Linked DNA regions of Homo sapiens. The protein of the gene in region 1 interacts with the protein of each later gene in a pairwise test. Each region holds a gene or a part of one and is shown in the gene's direction. Other genes may lie near its edges.

The links. The genes of interacting proteins can lie anywhere in the genome.
Region 2: the proteins of UFSP2 (region 1) and APOBEC1 interact in binary tests that used the Homo sapiens proteins (3 or more experiments, as listed by UniProt).

Annotation. Positions count from the first base shown.
Region 1 is NC_000004.12:185,422,444-185,430,183, reverse strand, and holds the start of UFSP2 (ufm1-specific protease 2), read left to right. Parts: upstream 1-4,219; 5' UTR 4,220-4,315; coding exon 4,316-4,318; intron 4,319-7,620; coding exon 7,621-7,699; intron 7,700-7,740. Other genes in the region: CFAP96 (cilia-and flagella-associated protein 96), read right to left, coding at 673-772. UniProt on the Homo sapiens protein: Thiol-dependent isopeptidase that specifically cleaves UFM1, a ubiquitin-like modifier protein, from conjugated proteins, such as CD274/PD-L1, CYB5R3, DDRGK1, MRE11, RPL26/uL24, TRIP4 and RPL26/uL24.
Region 2 is NC_000012.12:7,662,542-7,671,184, reverse strand, and holds the start of APOBEC1 (C->U-editing enzyme APOBEC-1), read left to right. Parts: upstream 1-5,276; 5' UTR 5,277-5,312; coding exon 5,313-5,328; intron 5,329-8,643. UniProt on the Homo sapiens protein: Cytidine deaminase catalyzing the cytidine to uridine postranscriptional editing of a variety of mRNAs. Form complexes with cofactors that confer differential editing activity and selectivity.

The DNA of each region.
Region 1 (7,740 bases):
GCATTTCATTTCTCAGGAAGGTAACAATGGATGGCCTTCTTGGACGCAAATGTAAATGCTGTTTGCATAGGGGAGTGTCCCATCTAACCAAAATATTCTGGGAGAAAACTGCCAGGCACCTTTGAAAAGAAATCAAATTACCTATGAGGACAATAAATTAGGATAGAATACCCTAATAAAACGAGATTCCTATTCTCATAAAATCACCTTCTTGCTGGGTGCTGTGGCTCATGCCTCTTAACCCCAGCACTACGGCACGCTGAGTGGGGAGGGTCTCTTGAGGTCAAGAGTTCAAGACCAGCCTGGGCAACATAGTGAGAGCTCCCCCGCCCTACTCCACAAAGTATTTAAAAATTAGCTGGGCATGGTAGTGTGTGCCTGTAGACTCAGGAGGCTGAAGATGGGAGGAACCCTTGAGCCCAGGAGTTTGAGACTGCAGTGAGCTATAATCAGGCCACTGGCACTCCAGCCTGGGTAACAAAGATCCTGTTTCTAAATAAATAAATAAATGATATCGCTTAACTTCATTGAAATTTTACACGTTAACAAACTTTAGAACTAAATGCTTTAAAATATAAACCATTAAAAAATCATTTGACTTAAATATTAAATTCTAAATTTTATATAGAAAATACCCACTATTCGTCCATAGAGAAAAGCAAATATACTTACGATTAAATTGTGACACATATTTATCACCCACAGTAATATATTCCATCTCACTAAAGAGGCCAATCCTTTCCATGTCCGTTTTTCCTCCTTCCGCAGGCATGGTGGCGTCTGGTGGTGGTACTCTCTATACCGCTAACTTCAAAAGTTTCCCTAGGGTCACGTGTTTTATAGCAAAGTCCTACTTTACATTGAAAATAAAAATAAAGGGGAAAAGTTTAGAAAAAAGTGGTTACTAATTTCCAGTTCTAATTACTTTCAGTCTGAGAGTTTAAGGTTTACTACAAAACAATAGCCTCATACTCCATGGGGAAAGAACCTACTCTGCGGGGTGGGGGAGAATACTGGGATTCAAAATTCTCCAGATGAGCCCTCCCCCTTGACTCTCCGTATGAAGTGCTCACAAATTACAAAGGAATGTACAAGATCTCATCGATTACACTGCCATTTATCTGTTGGAAATGATAAAATTATTACTGTACGGTGTATTATAAACAAATCCTTCTTTTGAGAAGTTCAGGGTAGATTTTAAAATCATAATTATATAAGGCAGACATTTTTACAGTTTAAATACAATGATTTCAGCATCCTGCATTGTCCCTTATGTTGAAAATATAACAGCTTTTCAGGATGTACAACACATTGAGGTATTACCCTACAACTCTTGAGGTTTTTTTCAAGTTTAAATAAACATAATAAGTGTGTCACTGGCAAAATTATAAAGGGAATGGGGAAGAGAACAATTATTTAGGCAAGATAAAAACGAGAACAAAAACAAAAATTCTACAATGAATTCTGAGTATTTGTTAACAGGTATACTTCAACTCTGAGCTTTCTTTGGAAATGACCACTTCAAACAAAGGTGAAATATTAAACATGCAACTCTTTATTTAGAAATTAATTGTTTTAAGACAGAGTCTCTTTTTTTTTTGTTGTTGTTGTTGTTTTTTTTTTTTTTAGACAGTCCCAGGCTGGAGTGCAGTGGCATGTTCTTGGCTCACTATAACCTCCGCCTCCCAGGTTCAAGCGATTCTCCTGCCTCAGCCACCTGAGTAGCTGGATTACAGACACGCGCCACCATGCCCAGCTGTTTTTGTATTTTTAGTAGAGACAGGGTTTAACTATGTTGGCCAGGCTGGTCTCGAACTCCTGGCCTCAAGTGATCCACCCACCTCGGCCTCCCAAAGCGCTGGGATTACAGGCATGAGCCACCGCGCCCGGCCAGAAATTAATTTCTAATAGTAGACATGTTATTTTTAAAAAGGAAGAGGCCCAAGGAGCTAAGAATACTTACCTCTATCCCATTCTAAAGTTTTTAAAGCACCAATTATGAGCTAAGCACTGGGCATACATAAGTGAAGAAAACAAACATTGGGTTAGTCCTCACAGTTTGTAATCCAAAGTAAGAACCATTTTTTTTTTTTTTTTGAGACAGAGTTTCGCTCTTGTAGCCCAGGATGGAGTGCAATAGCGCGATCTCGGCTCACTGCAACCTCCGCTTCCCAGGTTCAAGCGATTCTTCTGCCTCAGCCTCCCAAGTAGCTGGGATTACAGGCGTCTGCCACCACGCCCAGCTAACTTTGTATTTTTTAGTAGAGACGGGGTTTCACCATGTTGGCCAGGCTGGTCTTGAACTCCTGACCTCAGGTGATCCACCTGCCTCGGCTTCCCAAAGTGCTGGGATTACAGGAGTGGGCCACCGCGCCCGGCTGGTAAGAACCTTTTACCTTAAATTTATTTATTTCTTTGCTTATTAAGATGGAGTCTCGCTCTGTCGCCCAGGCTGGAATGCAGAGGCGCTATCTCAGCTCACTGCAACCTCCGCCTCCTGGGTTCAAGGAATTCTCCTGCCGCAGCCTCCCAGGTAGCTGGGACTACGGGCACCTGCCACCACGCCCGGCTGATTTTTGTATTTTTAGTAGAAACGGGGTTTCACCATGTTGGTCAGGCTGGTCTCAAACTCCTGACCTCAAGTGATTCACCTGCCTCGGCCTCCTAAAGTGCTGGGATTTCAGGCGTGAGCCACCGCGCCCGGCCTTTTACCTTAAATTTAAAGCAAGCTGTTTGAGTGCCTCTCTGCAAGCCTGCCTGAAACTGGCTCACCTGAGCATGAATCATTGCTAATACGTAACACCAAAGGGGCAAGTGAAGATTCATTTTAAACTGAAACATAACTAAATACAACGCCCTTCCCCACATCCTACCTCTTCCATTAATCAGAGATGCTTTAAAACCAAACTTCAGTCAAGATTTAGTACTTTCATTTACCTTATATTTCAAAGCTCCACGGCACAAGGGCAGGAGCTGAGACAGGTTCCTCCCTCTCACGGTATCCCCGCATCTGCGCAGCTCCCGGCACACAAGCGAGCCAGGGAGGAGGGAGGGAAGAAATTCTTGCCTAGAACTTTCCCATCACTTAACTTTTTTCTTATTAATTTTTTTTTTTTTTTGAGACGGAGTCTCTCTCTGTTGCCCAGGCTAGGAGTGCAGTGGAGCTGTCTTGGCTCTCTGCAGCCTCCGCCTCCCGGGTTCAAGCGATTCTCCTGTCTCAGCCTCCCGAGTAGCTGGGACTACAAGCACCCGCCACCATGCCCGGCTATTTTTTTTTTTTTTTTTTTTTTTTTTTTTTTTTTTTGGTATTTTTAGTAGAGACAGGGGTTTCACCATTTTGCCCAGGCTGGCCTCGAACTCGTGAGCGCAGGTGATGCGTCTGCCTTGGCCTCCCAAAGTGCTGGGATTACAGGCGTCAGCCACCGCGCCCGGCCCGCCACTACTTAACTCTTATTGAGCAACATTTACAAAATTATTCATTCACTTATTTAACAGATATTCTGCAATCCCCTTCGGGGCAAGCTTGCTGGTAGAAACTAGAAACAGATTTAAGAAGGCATAGATGCTGCCCGCAAGGAGCTTACAATCTATTAGACAAGAAAATAGAGCATAGCCGAATTATGGCACGTTCCCTTGCAAAAGGTACGGATGGAGCGTCAGGAGAGGTGAAGAAGGGGCAGAAAACTGGAGGAGGTGATGAGGAGTCTGTTTCCCAGAGAGGAAACGGAGGCTGGGAGGTGGCAGGTATCTAAGGGGCAACACCTGGCGTCCGCGAGGACCAAGTCACCTTTCTTGAGGACACCCACTCCGACAGCCGAGATCAGGTTGCCCCAGCTCGTCCAGGTTGCCCCAGCTTGTCCACGTTAACTGCGCTGCGGGAGCGGCGAGGGTTCCCAAGCGCGCGACACGCCTGGGCTGCGCAGCGCCTCTGCACGTTCCACCACAGCTGGCGTTTATTGTGTGATGTGTTGCCCCGGGTACGGGAGAATCCATTCCAAGCACGCTGTGGGAGGATACGAGGAGATTCGAATCCGCATCGAAGAACACACAGAAGGATGTGTGAGCTTCTGTAGGACAGAAAAGACTTAACTAATAGAATTTACCAAACATAAGTCTTCGGCTACCCGCCCCGCCTCGCCGTCCGCGAGGGACTGCGGTGTGGTACGCTCCGTGACGTCATGCCGCCGAGCATGTCGGGAGTTGTAGTTGGTCCGCCCGGGCCCCGCCCCTGGGCCGTGCGGTGACACCACTTCAGGGCCGGCCCCCGGAACTTTTGGGCAGGCGTCAGCGCCCGTGTCACCGCCACGTCGCGGACATGGTGAGTATCTCTGCTCGTCACCGACCCCTGTGTTTTTCCCCGGACTTTGGCAGCCGCCACGAGCGGGCTTCACAGCGCCTGAAAGGAGCTGGTCCTGCCGGGGTCCAAGATGGCAGCTGCGAGCTGCGTGGGCAGGGCGGCTCTCCAGTTCGCCTGTCTCCGCGCTGGGCCGGGGGGAAAGTGCCCTACACAAGTGTGCACCCCGCCTCGGCCACCTTGGACACGCACCCCCTGCTACTTCTCTGTGTGAAAGTATTTTGAGAGACTTCGGCGTTTTTGAAGCCTTGCAAGAAGGGCTTAACCTGGGACAGGCGCAACTTTCTTCGGATATTATATTCCCCTAGTTCCCGTGGTATTTCCCTCCCCTGGTTTCTCTCCTGTCTCATTGCTCAGCAAGGTTCTCCAATCCCTATCCTAAATGGTGGTGCTCTTCAGGGACGCTTTACACCCTATGCGTTCTCCTAAAATTTTATCTCTAAGTTAGACCTTTCTTCTGAGCTCCAGACCCACAAATCTGCTAACCGTGCCTCCACTTGGATAGCTCATATGTATTTCAAGCTCAGCAAGTTCCAAACTGAGCATTTCCACTTCCCCACAGCCCACACCTGCTCTTCCTCCAGGAACCCCCAACTCTGTAGATGGCACCACCATACATCCTGTTGTGCCTGCCCAAAACCTGGAAATCATCCTTGACATCTCCCTCTTCTCAACTCCCCGACATGCAGTCAATAATCAAGTCCTATAGATGCTACTTCTAAATGTCTGTCTGTTGTCACTGTCGCCACTCTTACCATCCTTGGCCTTGAGATCTATCCATCTGGGGTAGTCACCTAAGTGGTCTTTTAAGCAGATCTTCACTCATCGATGGCCCTGCCTGGAATGGGCTATTGCACCTTCACTCACCCTTCAGATCTCAGCCTCAGTATTATTTCTTCAGAGAGTATCTCAGCTAATTCGGAAGTCTAGGAAGACTAGTGCTTTTATGAATGATGTCTTGTGGAATCTTCATAACAACCCTGGGAAGTTGTGTATTTTTCCAGTTTTACAGAAGAGAAACAGACTTAAGTGATAAGTTAAATTGTGTAAAATTGTACAGTAAGTAGCAGAGTTAAAATTTGTTCTTTCCTGTCTAACTTTTATCTTCAGTATCTTTAAATATTTTTTATTTAAATGGGTACATACTAGTTTGTTTGGTAGTATTCTTTATTTAACTGATTTCTTATTAATAGCTATTTAAGTGGTTTCCATTTATTTTTCTGTGATGAACAACGGTAGAATAAATGGACAACATGAAGCTAAATTTGTCCTGAACTTTCTTGATTGTTTCCTTAGAATAAATTCTCAGAAGTAGAATTGGGACAAAGGGTATATGATCTTTCAAAAGATTACAATTTTAGAATAAATAAAAACAGTGACCCTTATAGAAATGTGACAAAGGATTTGTAAAATGAGAAAAACTGTATTGGTACCTATTTAATACTGTTCTGAGGATTGGAGTAAGTATGTATGTTTAGCATAGTGCCTTTTACATGTTTTTGTTTTATTTTATTTTGTTTTTTGGAGACAAGATCTTGCTCTGTTGCTTAGGCTGGAGTGCAGTGGTGTGATCATGGCTCACTGTAGCATTGACCTCCCCGGCCCAAGCAGTCCTCCCACCTTAACCTCCCGAGTAGCTGGACTACAGGTGCAGACCACCACACTCAGCTAATTTTTTTTTTTTTTTTTGGTAGAGATGGGGGTCTTCCTATGTTGCCCAGTCTGGTCTCTAACTCCTGGGCTCAAAGTGATCCTCCTGCCTCTGCCTCCCAAAGTGTTGGGATTACAGGCGTGAGCCACTGCACCCTGCCTGTGTTTTACATTTGAAGAGCTCAGTAAATGTTAGTACTTATTCATTTATTTCAAAATAGGGGTCTTAGTGTGTACTATGGTTCTTCAGCCTGTTTGAGAGATATGTTTTGAGAGTCTCATGAAATTTTTGAAACCTCTTCCCAAAAGAAATCTCCCGCTCTCTTTCTCCCTTCCTGTCTCTTTCTCTCGTGTGTGTGTGTGTGTATATATGTATGTATATATGTATGAATATGTGTATCTGTGTGTGTATATATGTGTACACAAACAATGATACATGTCATTTGTGATATATCATCAACTACCTGAAACAGTATATGGATCCAAGTAAAGAACTGATTAGTTCCATTTTGCAAGTGCTCTTTTCCCTTTATAAGTTGTAAGCATTGTCCTGTGCCTTTTAATTTTCAGCAAAAACATGATTTTTTTATGGCTATATGATATTCCTATTTTTTTTAACCAATCTATTGTTGGCAGTTAGGTTAATATCCATGTACCCGAATCTTTGTGTGTTTTTCAGATTTTTCTTAGACTAAGTCTGAGATTCTAAATGCATATCACTAGATCAAGCCTATGAATATAAACCTTTGATTCTTACTGCCATATTCTCTGAAGGATTCCACCAGTTGATATCCCACCCTCAGTATGAGTTTCCTCTCATTGTCTTGACTCCCTGGTATTATATTAGGTTCAGTGCCTTGTCACATTCTTAAACTAGTTCTTTACTGTTGATGTTTTATTGTCATTGTTAAACCTGTCAAGATTATAATTTGGAAAGATTGTCTTAAAGCAGTAGTTCTCAACCATTCACATTAGAATCACTGGCATGGGGGCATAGGATACTTTTAAATATCCCTGTGCCAGCTGGGCGCGGTGGCTCACGCCTGCAATCCCAGCACTTTGGGAGGCCGAGACAGGCGGATCACTTGAGGCCAGGAGTTCAAGACCAGCCTGGCCAATATTCTGAGATCCCGTCCTTACTAAAAATACAAAAATTAGCCAGGCGTGGTGGTGTATGCCTGTAATCTCAGCTACATGGGAGGCTGAGGCAGGAGAATCTCTTACACCCAGGAGGCGGAGGTTGCAGTGAGCTGAGATTGTGCCACTGCACTCCAGCTGTGTGACAGAGTGAGACCCTGTCTCCAAACAAAAAACCAAAATCCCTGTGCCTAGGCCTTAGACCAGTTAATCAGAATCTCTGGGGGTACAGCCCAGGCCTCAGTATTTCAAGCTCCCCAGGTGATTTCAGTATAGAACAAAGGTTGAGAACCCCTGATTTAAAATTTTGGGGTTGCTTTTGTTTTTGTTTTTTCTATAAAACAAGGAATTAACTCATGAAATAATTTGAAGAATCAAGGTTAATTAATGTCTTAACACTAAACTTAGATTCTAATTTATATGAATATGAGTTTGTTTTGTTTTACAAGGGAGTTTGTCTTTATCTTTATTTGTTCTAGGTGATTTCAGAAAGTATGGATATACTCTTCAGAATAAGAGGAGGCCTTGATTTGGCTTTTCAGCTAGCTACTCCTAATGGTAGGTCTTCTGAAAAATTCTTTTTTATTAGAAAATTGATA
Region 2 (8,643 bases), on another chromosome or scaffold:
AAAAGCACTAACCATAAAAAGTAATCCAATCGATATAAACTGAACTTTACTAAAACTTCATTAAACTTCTGCTCTTCAAAAGACACCATTAAGGAAAATAAAAAGCAAACCAGAGACTAAGGGAAATATATACAGACAGTCCCCAGTTTAATGATGGCATGACTTAGAATTTTTCAGTTTTACAATGGTGTACAGGTGATATGCATTCAGTAGAAATTGTATTTCAAGTACCCATACAGCCATTCGATTTTTCCTGTTAAGTGCAGTATTCAATAAATTGAATGAAATGTTAAGCACTTCATTTAAAAATAGTCTTGTGTTGGATGATTTTGCCTAAGTGTAGGCTAATATAAGTGTTCTCAGCATGTTTAAGGTAGGCTAGGCTATGATGTTTGGTAGGTTAGGTGTATTTTTTTTTTTTTTTTTTTTTGAGACAGAGTTTTGCTCTTCTTGCCCAGGCTGGAGTGCAATGGCACGATCTCGGCTCACCACAACCTCTGCCTCCCAGGTTCAAGTGATTCTCCTGCCTCAGCCTCTGGAGTAGCTGGGATTACAGGCATGTGCCACCACACCCGGCTAATTTTGTATTTTTAGTAGAGGTGGGGTTTCTCCATGTTGGTCAGACTGGTCTCGAACTCCTGACCTCAGGCGATCCACCCGCCTTGGCCTCCCAAAGTGCTGGGATTGCAGGTATGAGCCACTGCACCCGGCCAGGTTAGGTGTATTAAATGAATTTTCAACTTAACAATATTTTGCAATTATGATGGGATTATGGAGACATGACTTCATTGTAAACTGAGGAGCATTTGTATACAGATATGACAAAGCTTGTATCCACAATACGTAAAAAACTCTTACAACTCAGTAATGAGACAAAGAACCCAATTAAAAAATGGACAAGGCCAGGTGTGGTGGCTCACACCTGGTAATCCCAGCACTTTGGGAGGCTGGGGCAGGTGGATCACCTGAGGTCAGGAGTTTGAGACCAGCCTGACCAACATGATGAAACCCCATCTCTACTAAAAATGCAAAAATCAGCCAGGCATGGTGGCACACGCCTGTAATCCCAGCTACTCGGGAGACTGTGACAAGAGAATCACCTGAACCCGGGAGGAGGAGGTTGCAGTGAGCCAAGATGGGGCCATTGTACTCCAACCTGGGCAACAAGAGCAAAATTTTGTCTCCAGGGTGGGTGGGAGGTGGGCGAGGTAGGGAGGGAAGACAAAAAATTTGAACAAGTTTCAGAAAAAAGATATATAAATAACTAATAAGTACATGAAAAGATGTTCATTGCATTTAATTTTAATGCAAATTAAAATCACAATGAGATACTACCACACACTCACAAGTATGATTGTAACTAACAGGGCTGACATTACTAAGTACTGATGAGGTTGTATAACAATTGGGGCTCTCTTATACACCTGATGAAAATGTAAACTGGTAACAACAATTTGGCATTTTCTTCAGTTAAATGTAGCTGGGTGTAGTGGCTCACACCTGTAATCCCAGAACTTTGGGGAGGCCAAGGCAGGAGGATTTCTCAAACCCAGGAGTTCAAGACCAACTTGGGCAATATAGTGAGACCCTGTCCCTATAAAAAATAAAATCAATTTTTTAAAAAAGAGTTAAATGTGCATTTACCTATTTGATCCAGCAATTTCACTCTTGGGTATTTACCCAAGAGGAAGAAAAAGAGACATGTTTACACAAAGAATTGTATACAAATGTTCACAGCAGCTTTATTCATGAAAGCCTAAAATTGGAAATAACCCAAAGTACATCACATCGACAGAAGAATATACAAATCGTAGCATACCTATGCAATGGAATACTATTCAGCAATGAAAATTAACCACCAATACACCTAATCATGTAGACCGATTTTACAGAAAAGCTGAAGAACAGCCTGGCCAACATGGTGAAACCCCGTCTCTACTAAAAATACAAAAAGTTGTATAGTGAGACCCTGTCTCAAAAAAAAAAAAAGGAAAAGCTGAGCAAAAGAACACACAAAAGTGTGCACAATGCATGATTCCATTTGTATGAAGTTCTATAATAGTCAAAACTAAACTATAGAGACAGAAAGAGCAGTATTTGCCTGGGACTAGGAGTAGGAGGATAGCTGCTAACACACAGAATTGGGGGGTGCTGGCCAGGCATGGTGGCTCACACCTGTAATCCCAGCACTTTGGGAGGCCAAGGTGGGTGGATCACTTGAGGTCAGGAGTTCGAGACCAGCCTGGCCAACACGGTGAAACCTCATCTCTACTAAAAGTACAAAAATTAGCTGGGCATGGTAGTGCATCTCTGTAATCCCAGCTACTTCTTGCAAGGCTGAGACATGAGAATGGCTTGAACCCGGGGGGCTGAGGCTACAGTGAGCCAAGGTCAAGCCACTGCACTCCAGCCTGGGCGATAGAGGAAGACCCTGTCTTAAAAAAAAACAAAAAAACAAAAGAACTTTTGGGGTGATGGGAATTTTAAATATCTTGACTGGAGTAGTTACATAAGTGTATGTATACATTTTTCAAAATTCATAAATTTTCAGGTGCAGGACAGACTTAAACTGAATAGCTACATTTCATCCTTGATTATCTTTGACCTCACTTACAAATAATTAACCACATGATAGTCTGTCATATGTCATAGTTCCAAGTTTTCTTAAACAAAACAGAACATGGACGAAGCGCTCAATAGGCATTCTAGTAGAAAACAAACCCAAGTTTTGCACCCTCTTGGCTGCTGCATGTTTACTTCCTGGGAGCATGTCCTACCATATCAGTTTCCTATTGCCGCTTCATGAAATTGCCACAGACTTAATGGTATAAAACGACACACATTGTTTTATAGTTCTGGAGGTCTGAAGTACAAAACAGGTCTCACTAAGCTGACATCAAGGTGTCATCAGGGTAGCATTTCTTCTGGAGGCTCTGGGGGAGAATCCATTCCTTGCCTTTTCCAGCTTCTACAGGCTTTCCTCATTCCTTGAATCGTGGCTCCCTTTGAGCCAGCAAGCAGAATTCTGCTCTCATCCTCATATCTCCATTTCGCATCCTGACTCTGACTCTTCTACCTCCCTCTTATAAGGACCCTGTGATTAGACTGTGCCCACCTGCATAATCCAGGATTGTCTTCTCATCTCAAGATTTTTAATTAACGACAAAGACCCTTTTGGCACTTAAGTTCATATGTTTAACAGATTCCAGGGATCAGGACATGGATATCGTTGATGGCTATTATCTTACCTTTTTTTTTTTTTCTTTTTTTTTTTAGACGTAGTCTCACTCTGTTGCCCAGGCTGCAGTGCAATGGTGAGATCTCGGCTAACTGCAAACTTCCCTCCTGGGTTCGAGCAATTCTCATGCCTCAGCCTTCCGAGAAGCTGGGATTACAGTCACCTGCCACCACACCCAGCTGACTTTTATATTTTTAGGAGACTGGGTTTTGCCATGTTGGCCAGGGTGGTCTTGAACTCCTGACCTCAGGTGATCCTCCCATCTCTGCCTCTCATAGTGCTGGGATTACAGGCGCGAGCCACTGCGCCTGGCCTAACCTACTTTTATTCTACAATGATTCTACTCTTACCTAACTTAGAAAAACTTGGTCTCTGAAGGGCCTTTATTGATGATGTGGGATTTCTGCCCCTTCTTCAAAACACTGGTCTGCCCCTGTCGAAACACCTGCTTTATCTCATGGAGGCTCCAGGTTGACTTTCATAACTAAGTAAAGTCTTGTATGTAGGATTCGGGTTTCAGGTTCATGGGGCCTTGAGATTCAAAGTTCAGGAGTTCTAGATTTGAGACACTAGAGGGAGACTTAGGCCTTGAAAAAGTGACCTCAATTCTAGGAGTAAGTGCTGAGACTCAGAGGAATTTTTGGCTTGAACTTGACCCAGGGTTCAGGCAACAGAGAGCAATGGCATAGGGAAGTATGGCATTTACTTTTTCAAGGGGGATAAAAAAGCAGAAGTGGCTGGGAGAGGTGGCTCACGCCTGTAATCCTAGCATTTTGGGAAGCTGAGGCGGGTGGATCACCTGAGGTCAGGAGTTTGAGACCAGCCTGGCCAACATGGAGAAACCCTGTCTCTACTAAAAATATAAAAATTAGCCTGGTGTGGTGGTGGGTGCCTGTAATCCCTGCTACTTGGGAGGCTGAGGCAGGAGAATCACTTGAACCTGGGAGGCAGAGGTTGCAGTGAGCCGAGATCGCGCCATTGCACTTCAGCCTGGGTGACAAGAGCGAAACTCTGTCTCAAAAAAAAAAAAAAAGGGCAGAAGTGGACTTGGCCACACACTTAATCTTAGATTCAAGGATGAAGAGAGCACCAAAGACCTGTACACAAATTAGCTGACTCAGAGGCCAAGGTCCTTCTCATTTTGTATCTAATAGCTCCCCTCCCCTCTCCAACACGGATGTAGGACAGAGAGCAAAATGAGAGGAAGTTGGAAATAGGTGAATAACAGCTGAAAGCCAAGGCCACAGTGTGCTCACCAGATAACATAAAAATTTTCAAGCTATAGTTACAGATTAAGTCTCTCTTAACTTTATTTTTCCTCTCATCTCTCCATTAAAGAATGATGCATCCTAGGCTAGGCACGGTGGCTCATGCCTGTAATCCCAGCACTTTGGGAGGACGAGGCGGGTGGATCACCTGAGGTCAAGAGTTCAAAAACAGCCTGACCAACATGGTGAAACCCCGTCTCTACTAAAAATACAAAAAATTAGCCGGGCGTGGTGTTGGGCGCCTGTAATCCCAGCTACTCGGGAGGCTGAGGCAGGGGAATCGCTTGAACCTGGGAGGCAGAGGTTGCAGTGAGCCAAGATTGTGCCATTGCACTCCAGCCTGGGCGACAAGAGCAAAACTCCGTCTCAAAGAAAAAAAAAAAGAATGATGCATCCTTGATGCAGAGTAGGAGATAATGAAAAATAAATAAATAAAACAAAACAAAACAAAAAAGAATGATGGATCCACCTTGCCTTAATCTTTATTTAAAGAAAGAGAAAGTTTACCAAATTCAGATGTCATTGAAGAACTTTGGAATTTGGTACCCAGTGATCCACCCTACAAAATTCATGTCATTTGCATCATAGGCTTTCTCATCACTAAAGATGCAAATCCCCACGATAATGTCCCTCTCAGTCGGCCCCCTGTTTGTACAGACAGCTCAGATTCCCATAACTGCCTGAGATGCGGGAATGAGTCATCCTCTGCCCAAGCAGGTGGCAGTGGGCACACCTGAAGCAACAAAGTCCAGGAACAATCAGCACAACTTATGACTCCAGAGGAGGAAGTCCAGAGACAGAGCACCATGACTTCTGAGAAAGGTAAAATGGATCCGGGGGCTTGGCAAGTATTCTTGAACAATGCAAGAATGGTGTGTGTGTGTGTGTGTGTGTGTGTGTGTGTGTGTGTGTGTGTGTGTGTGTGTCCTGCTGATTCTTGCATCTGTGGGTGTTTTCAAACTTCCCTATTATTGATTAATATATTAGTCTTAAATAAGATGGTTTATTATTAGTAAATATTTACATCTCCAAGTGACTTTAACCAAATCAGTGTTTGTTTCACCATGATAAAAAATTAAGTAGCCAGGCGCTGTGGCTCACACCTGTAATCCCAGCACTTTGGGAGTCCAAGGAGGGTGGATCACTTGAGGCCCAGGGTTTGAGACCAGCCTGGCCAACATGGTGAAACCCTATCTGTACTAAAAATACAAAAATTAGCCAGGCATGGTGGCGCATGCCTGTAGTCCCAGCTACTCGGGAGGCTGAGGCAGGAGGATCACTTGAACACAGGAGGCGGAGGTTGCAGTGACCTGAGATCACGCCACTGCACTCCAGCCTGGGCAACAGAGCAAGACTCTGTCTCACAAAAATAAAAAAAAAGTTAAGTAAAAGTACAACTGTTTAAATAACAGTTTAAGGTAACAACAGACGTGATAGCATGAGAACAATGTGCTAATTGACAAATGAATTGACTATAACTAATTGATAAATTTGTGCACAGTCAGTGTTAGAAAAATGCATGGGAGAGGAAGAACACTTCAGGCTGAAGGAAGTAATTTCAGCTGAGCTAGGATTTGAGCTGGATTCTAAGAGAAGTGTAGACCTAAAAAAATTTTTATCTTATTTTGTTTTTAGAGACTAGCGGGTGGGTTCACTACTTCGCCCAGGCTGGTCTGGAACTCCTGGGCTCAAGCAATTCTCCACCCTTGGTCTCTCAAAGTACTAGGAATACAGGCATGAGCCACCATGCCTAACCAAATTTTTTTTTTTTTTTTTTTAAGACTCGCCCTGTTGCCTAGGCTGGAGTACAGTGGTGTGATCACTGCTCACTGCTGTCTTGACCTCCTGGGCTCAAGAGATCCTCCCGCCTCACCTTCCTGGGTAGCTGGGACAACAGGCATGGGCCACCAGCCCTGCTAATTTTTTTGTAGAGATGAGGTCTTGCTTTATTGCTCAGGCTGGTCTTGAACTCCTGGGCTCAAGTGATCCACTAGCCTCGGCCTCCCAAAGTACTGGGATTACAGGTGTAAGCCACCATGCCAGGCCAGAAGGGCAGACTTTGGATCGACAAAGAAGAGGAGATTCCAGGTTGATTGAATCCTATTGATGAACAGAATTTAAAAGCTTTTATAGAGACTTGTGTCTGGAATATAATGAATAAACTGGTTAGGCTACAAAAAATTTATGTAAACAATTTGCAGTAAGACCAGAAAGCAAATTTGAAGTGTTATTATACTATAGAGGACTTCGAATGCCAGGCTCAAGGAATGAAAGTTTTTCTTTATGGTAGAGGGAATATCTTTGGAGAATTTATGAATAGCACAGAGATATGACTAAAATAGTGCTTTAGACACATTTACTTGACATGTGATGGGTTTTGGACTGGAAGCAAGGAGACCAGTTAGAAGACTATTGCAATAGTGTGAGTGTGATGGGGCAGAAGGTAATATAGATATCAGTTTGGAGTTGAAGTAACAATTTATTTTCTCCTTTATGTTCTTCATCTGTTAGAATTCTTTTTTAAGGTCAGGTGTGATGGCTCACACCTGTAATCCCAGCACTTTGGGAGGTCAAGGCAGGCGGATCACCTGAGGTAGGGAGTTTGAGACCAGCCTGACCAACATGGAGAAACAACGTCTCTATTAAAAATACAAAATTAGCTGGGCACGGTAGCACATGCCTGTAATCCCGCTACTTGGGAGGCCAAGGCAGGAGAATCACTTGAACCAGGGAGGCGGAGGTTGCAGTGAGCCGAGATCGCGCCATTGCACTCCAGCCTGGGCAACAAGAGCAAAACTCCATCTCGGGAAAAAAAAAAAAATTCTTTTTTAAGTGGCATACTGGGGGAAAGACCAAACACATTATTTGATTGTAGTAGCTAATACCTTCCCTGGACTTTTCTTATGAAGGTGGTGTGTTCTATACCTCAAACTGTCCCCAGTCATGTGGCTGGTATCCTTGTCTTTGCATCCCAGGAATAATATTGATCAGTGTAGACACAGCATATGTCTCACCGTCCCTTTCTGAACTTCTCACTGCTGCTTCAGCTCTTTCAGAGAAAGTGTCTTCCCATCATCAAATGCCTTTTTCCTATGATGTGGCCTCTGTTTATGTAAGGCTCCCTCGGAGTAGATTACTGGTTCAAGGGCCCCAATTTGCACTAAGATCTGAGAAGAGCTCATTCCAACGTGCCAGCCACCCCCTTCCTCCTTCCTCCCAATGCTCAAATCCCCCATTCCTCCTTTAAAAGTAAGAGATTTGTTCTTCAGGTCACACTTGGAATAGTGTTTCCTGACTTCGTCCTATTTCCTAGATATCTGGCTAATTTCTCATTTTAGTTCTTCTCCCCAGCTAGAACCACTCTCTGCAAAAAAACCATGCCATGCCCAAGTCCTTTCTACAACTCCTCTACCATCCAGTGCAAATGCATAAAAAGTAACACACACAAACAGGTACACACACAGCCTAGGGTAAAGCATGCTCTGTTTTAAAGGAAGTGTCTTCCAGAGCCTGTGACTCTTCTCTGTTCAAAAATAGCACCTGCGAGTTAAGGTTTGGCCAGGAGCGTGGGATGAATTTCTTGCCTGCATCTCCCCAAATCACCCTTAGAGGTTCAGGCCTTGTCAGCGCCCATTTTATTGCCAGGAACATCCCCAAGCCTCTGAGTCCTGAGAGGCGCAGGTCTCTAAAATTCAGTACTCTCCCTTGAATCATCCCCATACTCTCTAATGGCTTCTTACACTTAGCATACTATCCAGAGCTGGTAAGGCCCTGTGGCTTACCCCCTCCATTGCTCATCTCCCTCCATTGCAGGTCTTGATCACTCCGACCCAGCCAAGCTGACTTGCTTGCTCTTCCTTGAACAAGTCAAGGTCCACACTTCAGGTCGTTTGCACCTGGTGTTCCCTGTGCTTGGAAAGCTCTCCCCTTCCCCGACGTCCACATGTCTTGCTCTCTAAATTTACATTCAGGTCTCAGCTTTAATGTCCCTCTTTATAGATGTCTTCTCTGACTGCCATCTCTGATATGGTCGATATGGTGCCCCCACCACCTTTTGTCTCCTTCCAGTACTTTTCTTCTTCCTTTTTTTTTGAGATGGAGTCTCTCTCGCTCTGTCGCCCAGGCTAGAGTGCAATG